4 separate regions of the Homo sapiens genome follow, and all the other regions are linked to region 1. The links come from fine-mapping of genetic effects on gene expression. A gene starts in region 1. Each other region holds a variant in brackets. All regions are shown on one strand. Distances are from middle to middle.

What was found. PIP is the estimated chance that this variant, and not a neighbour inherited with it, causes the effect. A credible set is the group of variants that fine-mapping cannot tell apart.
Region 2: its variant is the best candidate, but not a certain one, in a credible set for the expression of SGCG in fibroblasts (GTEx, PIP 0.85).
Region 3: its variant is the best candidate, but not a certain one, in a credible set for the expression of SGCG in tibial artery (GTEx, PIP 0.64).
Region 4: its variant is the best candidate, but not a certain one, in a credible set for the expression of SGCG in lung (TOPMed, PIP 0.64).

The regions. Positions count from the first base shown.
Region 1 is chr13:23,179,686-23,182,185 of GRCh38, reverse strand. SGCG (sarcoglycan gamma) reads right to left here and starts at 1,207. Exons shown (of 8, transcript NM_000231.3): 1 at 1,111-1,207.
Region 2 is chr13:23,157,891-23,160,660 of GRCh38, reverse strand. LOC124903134 (a long non-coding RNA gene) reads left to right here and starts at 985. Exons shown (of 2, transcript XR_007063719.1): 1 at 985-1,495. It also overlaps a transcript of SGCG not described here. The variant C/G (reference allele first, on the strand shown) is at 1,524.
Region 3 is chr13:23,288,466-23,290,965 of GRCh38, reverse strand. The region is part of intron 5 of SGCG (sarcoglycan gamma); the gene reads right to left. Among named protein-coding and RNA genes, the nearest start is that of SGCG, 110 kb to the right of the region's middle. The variant G/A (reference allele first, on the strand shown) is at 1,392.
Region 4 is chr13:23,149,548-23,152,317 of GRCh38, reverse strand. The region is part of intron 1 of LOC124903134 (a long non-coding RNA gene); the gene reads left to right. Among named protein-coding and RNA genes, the nearest start is that of LINC00362, 20 kb to the left of the region's middle. The variant C/T (reference allele first, on the strand shown) is at 1,240.

The DNA of each region.
Region 1 (2,500 bases):
TTTAATGACTAGCAAGTACATTTTTTAAAGGACAATATGGAACAATTTCATTTTCCGCATTTTAACTGCAAGCTTAGCTGATATCTTTTGGACACCTGAATTTGTTAGTCTTTGGAATGCTATATCTAACTACATTGAAATGCTACTTTTCATTTGTCTTTGAAAGACAATCTGAAATGAATCCTAGAACCTATAAAACGAACCCCAACTTGTAGCATTACTTTTTAAATTCCACAAAGGTGCCTTTTTGTACCTACAAAATGTTTGCAAGAAAATAAGCAAAAAACAAACGGTGTATTCCGTAGTTCGTTTTTGTACTGGTCTGCTGGCAAATCTTTCAGTCAGCTGAGTTATATTTTTCCGTATTATTTTTTTCTAATCCTTCCTTTAAAAAAATTGTGTTTGCTAGTTGTCATGTATTAATTTAGAAAACGCAAAGAAAGAACTCATAACTTCAGTAAGCTGAAGCATTAGCACATGTGTACTTTTACCCCACTTATGTTTATTTTTTCATACATATTTTGAGCAGTATTTTATATTTTCCAGATTTAGGGAAAGAAACATTCTTCCCTTTTCACTCCAAAAATAGTGAAGGAGTCAGGTTGCTATTTTGCTCTTGTTTTGTTTATTTCCAACTTATAAAACCACTGGACTTTTGTTGTCATTCATTTTAGTTTATTTCTTAGTGTCTATAACAAAACTATCAAGAAAATCTAAAGCAAATGTAATTCTACCACTAAAGTTTAAGAGCAGAATTAGAAGTAGGTGATCTTAAAGATAATACTTTGTTTAAATTAACTACAGGATCCAATTCAATGCCCAATAATACAGAAATGCTACCTTTGGCATTCTACAAATTAAAAATGTTAGAAATATAGGATTATGCTAAAAATATGTAGCATATTTGTAGTCAGAATAACTTAGTTGAAATGAGAATTTCATTGATACTTGATATGTCATTATGTTGTGATACACCAATTTATTCAACATTATTTTAAATTTATTATTATGCCACCAAAGAAGAAAGAATATTAAGAAACCTCTTAAGCGTTTGGTTTTTAGGTAGTACTTTGTACTGATATAAAATCTAAGTTAAAACTGAGCACTTACCTTAGATATTAAGAAAAGCACACTGGCGAATGAACTACAGCTGGCCCGAGCTCTACCACAGACAGAATGTTTCAAACTTTTCTATGACTTACAGAATGAGAGCAAAGGATGAAGCTTCAGCAACTGTCCCTGGAGAAAGGGCTCTCACGAGTTTCGCCCTGTCTCATGTTTCATCCCCTCACATTAGCAACAGACGTGTCTAATTTTACTCAGTGACATAAACAGTTCATACCACACTTAAAATTTTTTGGGCACCAATTCCAGGACACAGCTCTTCGCATGCCAAAAACAAACCAAAACAAACAAACAAACAAGAAACCAAACTCTTCTTCTTACAAAACCAACTTTCCAACATTTAAACCCTAAAGCATGATAGTTTAATGTAATTATAACTTTCTTAAAAAAACTTTACCTCAAACAAACAGCAGAAAACTTCTAAGACTGGTTTCCATTAGAAACTAATGTTGATAAAATTTTACGAAAAATCTCTTCAAATTAACATGCAAGTTAGAACTTGTGACTATTACCTATATACTAGTCTCATCCAAATGAACGGCATATTACCATGTAACAGTGACTCTTTAAAAATCACTTTCCCTAAGCCTCTTTAAGTGAAAAACTTTTAACATCTGAGGAGAAAATCTTAAACAAAGATCACCATAATAGAAGGTAAACAAACTCTGCATGTTAAAATTATGACAGTTCTTTTCTAGTAAACTAACATTTCTATTGTGTTTAACAAATTATGTGAATGTAACAAATGTGACCTTAAATTGTCTTTATGTTTATTTAAGAGTAATTAGGTCATTCCATTTTATAAGGTGTAAAGACAACAGAATAAATATCGAACTTCTGAATAATTTTAATATTTTATTTTGCATTATTTTTATGTGACCTGGTTTGCAGCAGGATTAAAACTTACTAAATTATATACTTCATATTTGCATTTTAGTACTAAACCTTGAATATAAGAAGCAGTGCCTTAGTATACATGCACACAGAGATGGGAACAATCAGATACTGGGGCCTGCTTGAGGAAGGAGGGAGGGAGAAAGGTGGGGTTCGGAAAACTGTCTATCGGGTACTGGGCTTACTACCTGGGCGATGAAATTATTTGTACATCAAATCCTGGTGATATGCAATTTATCTGTGTAACAAACCTGCACATGTACCCCTCGAACCTGAAATAAAAAATGAAGAAAAAAAGGAGCAATGCAATAACAATGCATATGCTTCATTCTCATTTTATTTTCTTCTCAGGAGACTTTTCTCTTCATTCTGCTTATTTATACTCTACCATAATTTCTTTTGAAATTTGATACTTCTATCATACCAGCAGCTGCAGGCCTTAAATTACAAGCTGATACAGCTTCAAATAATCTTACATTTG
Region 2 (2,770 bases), 22 kb after region 1:
GCTATTCTCTTTACCTGCTGTACTTCTTGGAGTCCCGGGGCGCAAACAGCCGCTGCATTTCCCTTCATTCCCGACGGGATGACACCACAGTCTTCTCCCCAGACAGCGCGGGCCTCTGCTCCGTCCTTCCTCAGCGACCGCAGCGACGACTCTGCTCCAGGGCGGGGGAGCAGCTTCCCAAGCCGCGGGCGCCCACTTCCCCGCCCGGACTCCGGGCGGTGCTGGCCGGGGCGCGCGGGGAGGCGGGGACCAGGGACCCCCCAGGAACTAGCCTGGGCTGCTGCACCGCTGCCAGGGCCGTCCTGCGCCTAGCCGAGCCCAGGGCGCCGCCGGCTGGACGCCCGTCAACTCCCACTGCGCCCGGCCCCCGAGCGCGCCCGGCTGGATCCGGCGCGCCCCTCCGCCCCAGGCGCCGCCAAGTCCCAGCACTATGCGCCCCTCCAGATGTCCGAAAGCGCCTCTCCAGGGCAGCCTATGTCCCTCTGTGTCCTTCCCGCGACGGGCCGGGCCCACCACTCCACACCTCCCGGGTCCTTCCATGTCCATCACCGTGTGCCTCTCCAGCATCCCCCCTCCCCTCCAAGTTCCAACATAGCACTCCTTCACATATTCCCCGCGTCGCTTCAGAGGTTCCTCCAGCCACTGCCCCGCCCCTCCACTTTTCCAGTTTCTCCAGTTCTATCGAGGCGCGCCCCTCCAGCACGTCCCCACCCCTCCACTCCCTCCCCGCGTCCCTGCACTCCCTCCCCGCACCCCTGCACTCCCACTCCGAGCCCCTCTGTGACCAAACACCGCGCCTTTCCAAGCGCTCCTCCTTCGCGCCGCCCCAAGATTCCCCTCCATACCCTGCACTCCTTCCGCACCCACCCACGCACCCCTGCGCGCCTCCACCCGGCGGCCTCTCCACCCTCAGACTCGCCCCCGCGATCCAGCGCGCGGGGCACTGGGCAGGGACATTTCTCGCTCCCACGCGAGTCCTTCGCTGCAGACGCTGGGTGCCTTCTTTCCAACCCAACTACTCCTGCTGAACGCATCTTGGGCTTGGAGCGCGGGACCACAATCTTTACACTTCTGGCCCTCGTCCTTTACTGTCAGAAAGGGTCAGCACCTGAGGAGATTTAGATAGTCCCTCTGGAGGGAGTGGTTCCATTTGCGAGCCTTTAAAAGTCTTGCCACCCAGCCTGTCCCCCGCAAACCCCTTGGGTTTATCACAGTTTACTCACTCTCGCGCAATGCTAGTTCTCCATCCGCCGCTAGGAGGCACCCCGAAGGGTTTGCTGTGGTGAAAACAATGCTGCATGCAGTTTATGCTGCACTTTAGTTAGCTCTTGGAGGCGAGCTGGGAAATAGTGACTGCTGATCCATGGACAAAGAAGCCGCTTTTTACTATGTTCTATTTTCAAGGCCTGAAGAAGTTCTCTGTAGCACATAGTAGTCTGGAGTTGGTTCCTGCCGGTGGGTTCGTGGTCTCAGGAATAAAGCCGGGACCTTCGCGGTGAGTGTCACAGCGCTTTTAGATGGCA[C/G]GGACCAAAGAGTTGGCGGTACCAAGGTTTATTGTGAAGACCAAAACAACAAACGTTTCACACTGTGAAAGGAGACTCCAGCCAGCATGGGGGGCAACTTTTATTCCCTTATTGTCTCTCCCTCCCCTGCCCCGCCCCCATGTTGCTTTTCTGTCCTACCAGAGTGCCCTTTTTTCAATCCTCCCCATGATTGGCTACTTTTAGAATCCTACTGATTGATGCGTTTTACAGAGCGCCAATTGGTGTGTTTTACAGAGCGCTGCTTGGTGTGTTTTACAGAGGGCTGATTGGTGTGTTTTACAATCCTCTTGTAAGAGAGGAAAGTTCCTCAAGTCCCCACTTCACCCAGGAAGTCCAGCTGGGCTCACCTCTCAATACAGTTTTCTAATTAGTGCTTGTGTATTTAACTCACTTATTTATTCGTTGACATTCTCCGTACACATGCATCACGGGGGAGCATCTTGGTTTTACCAGCTTTGTGTGAATGGTATGGGTATCTGAAGATGTTTGGTGAGTGTGCTAAGGAGGTAAACTTTCAAATATATTCCCGAAAGGATCATGCTGGTGTATTTTATGATTTTTTACAGTAAAAATCTGGTACCATATTTGGGACCAAGTAGAAACATAAAGATGTTGGACCGTTTTAAAATGTTTTTAATGTAACAGAATGGATAACTGCAAGGCAGAAATGTTTACAACTTCTAGATTACACTTTTTAAAAGCAAACTTTTGCAAAGGTAGAAATTGAAACGAGAAAAGCCAATTTTCCAGAAGTGTCCAGTGCAATACTTCTCTAATTACTTCTCTCTCTTATAGTTGATAGACAGTGATAATCATTTTCTAAAAATATCCCCCTCAAGGAGCAAAGGATAAACAAGATGGATATAGAGATATATTATTAAGGGTATATTAATAATTTCCTACATATTTCACAGGCAGCAAATGACAGATATTGTGAATTATTACTCTAAAAATGTCCGTACTAATCAGTAAAGGCTGCAGTTTAATATTTCTGCCAAAGAATTCAAAAGTTATTAATGTGTTTTAATTGCCAAAACTAATCTGATCTCAGAGCCAGAACTTCTCCTTTGTTGGCTTAGAAATAAATTATTAGCAACAGTTTGTGCTGGTGATGACGATCGCAGTGGGGATCTAGAGAACTTATGAGTCCCGTGATAAAAAGCTAAATATATCCGAAGTGGTGTATGAAAACAACCAGGGGTGTGGGCAAGGGATACCATCTCCAG
Region 3 (2,500 bases), 110 kb before region 1:
GAAAAGATCATGGTACAGAGCCCAGCAATCAGGGTGCTCTTGGACAGAGCTCAGCAACTGAACGGCAAATAACTCTAAGTTGTTCCATTCTTTGCAACATACTGCTGTTTCTAGGTTCCTTCAATTATAGAAATACATTGAATTCAATATTAATACTTCTGTTCAGACAGTAATATATATCTCAGACATGCATTCATTTTTGTATCAACACTGATAACTATTTGTTAAGATTCATTCTACACCTTCATTGAGCATTTATGGACTGATACGGTCTTTTCAAGTGATGCCAAAAAAATTCCATTTCTCTCGTTCAGCCAAACTTCCGCTTAATGTCACCACATAATGCCTCTACTGCCTCCCGTCCTATTCACTTTGTAACCACTTCAACCTGCCTTTTGCCTTTATTACTCCAATGAAAAATGCTCTCCTTAAGATAGCAATAACTTCCGTAATAATAAATCCAATGACAATTTCTGTCATCTCTCCTGGGTCCAAATTCTGAGAAAATAGTCTCTCTTGACACCAGAAAAACGATTATCGTAATATCCCTCCCACCGCATTGTCTGTCCCTTATTCTCCTTTGGTGGCTGCTCTGCCTTTACTTGGCCTCTACTGTTGGCATTTTTTGGAGCTCAGTTGGTTGATGACACCCACATTTATCTCTAGTCTAGACTTCTGCTCTGAGCAGTAGCTAACTCACATGCCCAATAGCTGACATGACATGCACTTGGCAGTTTTCCCAGATTATCTTCAATTTACGTGTCTAAAATATTAACTGTTGATGCTGTCTGCCCTGCAAATGAATTCTCCTCCTCCTCAGGCCTCTCCGTTACCCAGAGAGTAATGCCATCAACCAAAACAAATATCATCTTTGAGTCTCCTCCTGGCTGCCTGCCATACACCCGATTCATAGGCAAGTCTGTAGCTGTCAGATCTTAAACTGGAGTAATTCACTTCCCTCTCTGACCATTGCTACCACCCAATCCAGGTCACCTTCGCTGATTACGTGTACTACAATTGACATCCTCCTAACTGGTCTTACTGCCTCCATTCTTTCCTCCAACCTCCTTTGTAATGGTTGGATTGATCTTAAGATGTATAATGAATCAAGGAGTACCCTGTTCAAAACAATTCAATGCCTCCCCATTGAACTAAAACAAATCCTAAATTCTTAAAATGGCCAGCAAATCCCTGCATAATCTGGTCCCACTCTATCTCCCTTTATACCAGGCTTTTTTCAGATTCAAACCTGGTAAGATTAAAAAATAAAAATCATGAAATAATATGGCACAGATAAGACAAATAGAGAACTTATCACAATGAATGTCAGTTTTAAATTCCACATTAAAACTCAAAATAAATTATGTTATAAACAATAAATCCAGCCAAAC[G/A]CCACATACAAAAGAAATTCAAATAATTTAATCTGAGAAAAATTTCAGCTGGGAGAGTAACTTAAGATGCCAAATCACTGAGGCCCTCTTATAGATAGATGTTTAGAGAAGTCTTTGCAGAGGCAAGTGATGTTTGCAATTGATGGAATCATTTTGCAACCCAAAAGGGAAATATCAACATACTTGCAGAGAAGAAAGGTAGCGTAAAATATTACTTGGCTACTAAATTAATCAACAACCTGGAGTTACCCTTTCCCCAGCCTTCCTATGTGAGATAATACATGTCCTTCCAGTTTAAGCCTGTTTTAATTGGGACTCTTGTTCCTTTCAGCTGAAATACCATGGACTGCAGCACGGCGTTGATCGCTGCGTGCAGTGCTGCATCAGACAGTGTTCTGTGCCCTTGGGTATGTGTTTGAAGGATATGGTACTCCTAAAAGCACCTTCCAGATATCTGTCTTCACGTCTTTTTCGACTTAACATCCTTGTTTATTTTCACTTCTTCAGTTGCTGAACACTTTGTTCTCCAGGTCCATTTTTGTCACTGGCTTTATGGGTGACTCTGGCATTTCTACACTATCACTTTTGACTTTATGTGATCTTGCTTAGCTGCACAGAAGGCATAAAGAAATGGAATTGGGACTATTGCTAGATCTTATTTTTTCTTATTAGTGGTGGGAAATGGATACTATTATAGAACTCTGTTTTTAAAGATAATATTGGGAAATGGACTGAGCCTAGCAAATTGTTGCCAGGGAGCTAAAATACACTTAGGGCAGCCAAACTAACAATTTGTCATCTGCCAGAAGTCAGTTCTGGCAATGGTGTAGAATAGTTTTTTGAAGACAACATTTTGATGTTATTCCAATAGTATGTTCTGTAACTTGGGTTAATAAAAGAAATGTTAACTTTGGCCACTTGGTGTCTAATTTTGTGGGGGAGGAAGATGAGCCTGCTTAAAGGCCTAAATTGGTTTCAGACTGAACTGCTGAAATTGTTTAATCGCTTCCATAAATTTCGCTTAAAAACTATTATTCAGTATCCTAGTTGACTAAAATCTAAATGGAAGCTGTTTAAGAATTAAAGAGAGGTTTTAGCTTATTTGAGTA
Region 4 (2,770 bases), 30 kb after region 1:
CACATCATACTTAATGGTGAAAAACTGCTTTTTTTTTTCCCAAAGAAACAAATATTAGTAGATCTAAAGGGAGCAATAGAGAGCAATAAAATAATAGTAGGGCACTTCAACACCCTAATTTCAGCAAAGGACAGATCATATAGATAGAAAAATCAATGTACAGCCAAGAAGCATATGAAAAAATGCTCAACCTCGCTAAACATCCAAGAAAGGCAAATTATATTGACATAGTTTGGCTGTGTCCCCACCCAAATCTCATCTTGAATTGTAGTTCCCATAATCTCCACGTGTCTTGGGAGGGACCCAACGGGAGGTAATTGAATCTTGAAGGCGGTTACACCCATGCTGCTGTTCTTGTGATAGTGAGTCCTCACTGGATCTGATGGTTTTATAAAGGGCTTTTCCCCCTTTTGTTTGGCACTTCACCTTGCTGCTGCCACATGAAGAAGGATGTGTTTGCTTCTTCTTCCACCATGATTGTAAGTTTACTGAGGTCTCCCCAGCCATGCTGAACTGTGAGTCAATTAAACCTCTTTCCTTTATAAATTACCCAGTCTCTGGTATGTATTTATTAGCAGCATGAGAATGGACTAATATGCGTATGATCTAGCAATCCCACTACTGGGCTTATGTCTGAAAGAAATGAAATCAATATGTCGAAGAGGGACATCTGCACTGTCATGTTTGTTGCATTAGTATTCACAATAGCCAGATTATGGAATCAAGCCAAATGCTCATCAACAGATGAATGGATAAAGAGATTATTATATGCAATGAAACAGTATTCACCCACAGAAAAGGATGAAATCCTGTCATTTGTGACAATACGGATGAGCCTGGAGGACATTTTGTTAAGTGAAATAAGCCAAGCACAGAGACACATATATACTATAAGATATCACCCATATGTGGAATCTAAAAAAATTAACTGATACAAGTTGAGAGTAGAACAGTGGTTACCAGAGACTGAGGAGAATAATGAGAATGGGGAGAAGGGGAGAAGGTGGTCAACAGGTGAACTGTTACAGTTAGACAGGAGAAATAAGTACTGCTGCTCTTTTGCACAGTAGAGTGACTATAGCTAACTATAATGCATTGTATATTTCACATATCTAAAAGAGAAGATTTTGTCGTGAATGTTCTCATGACAAAGCAATGATAAATATTTAAGTTGATAAATATGCTAATGAACATGATTTGATTATACAGTGTATACATGTATGCAGACATCACACTGTA[C/T]CCCATGCATATGTACAATTATTATATGTCAATAAAAAATAAAGTTCATTAGCTTCAAAAGAATGGACAAGCTAGTATCAAAAGTCATATAGGAATGCAAGATTACCAAAACAGAGAAAGTAATATGGAAAAAGAAGAACAATGTTGAGGCCTCATGATTTCTGATTTAGCAACTTACTACAAACCTATATGGTACTAGCATAAGACATATACATCAATGGAACAGAACTGAGTTCATAAATAAACTCTCACATTTGTAGTTAATTGAGCATTCAATGGGAAAAGAATTGTTTTATCAACATATGTTTATAAAACAACCGAATATTCACACACAAAAGAATAAAGTTGGGCTCCTTCTTCCTACCATACACAAAATTTAACTAAAAATGTATCATATGCCTCAATGTAAGAGCTAAAACTAAAAACTCTCAGAAGAGAACATAAATTTTTATGAACTTGAGCCCAGCAAAAGCTTGTTATGCACATCAAACTCAGTAGTAACAAATGAAAAAACAAATTAGGCCTCATCAAAATAAAAAATGTTTCTGCAGCAAATTATACCATCAAGAAAGCCAAAGAAAACATGAAAATGGTACAAAAGATTTGCAAATTCTATATCTGATAAGGAGCTCAATAAAAGGATGAGCTAACTGAAAATGAACATTTCTCCAAAAAAGATATACATAGGAAAGGATACTTGAAGCATTAGCCATTTAGAAAACACGAATCAAAACCACAATAAGATACCACTTCCAGCCTCTAGAAATGCTATAGTAAAAAAGACAAATAATCACAAATTTGCGAGGATGTGAAGAAATTGGAACACTCATATATTGCTGGAGGGAATGTAAAATGTTGCAACCATTTTGGAAAACAATTTGGGAGTGCTTCAAAACATTAAACATAGCCTTGTCAGACGACCCAGAAATTTTCTTCTATTTATCTATTCAAGAAAAATAAAAACAAATCCATAAAAAAACTTGCATACAAATGTGCACACTAGAAGTATTCATAACAGCAAAAATGGGGAAATAATCCAAATGTACATCAACTGATGAAGGAATAAATAAAACATGATATATCCATACAATGGAATATTATTCAGCAATAAAAGGAATGAATTACTGACACATAATACAATATGGATGAACTTTGAAAACATTATACTAGGTGAAAGGAGTCAACGACAAAAGATCAGATAGTATAATTAATAGACATAATATGAAAAATAGACAATTAGGGGCTAATAAAAATGTTCTAAGTTGAGAGTTTGGTGCCTGCTGCATAACTGTGAATATAGTAAAGCCTTTTTCATTCTGTACCTTAAATGGGTGAATTTTGTGTGGTATGTGAATTATATTTCAGTAAAGCTGTGAAAAATGCATATACATAAAAATATTAGCTTTTGTTTTTCTCTCATGCTCCAGTGAGTTGCAGAAGTCAGAAAAGAGAGGATCAGGAAGCCATCAATTCTGCTTTTACCTGTACATTTTTTTCTTATTCTTTCTTATTTAGTTAAAACGAAGTAAGA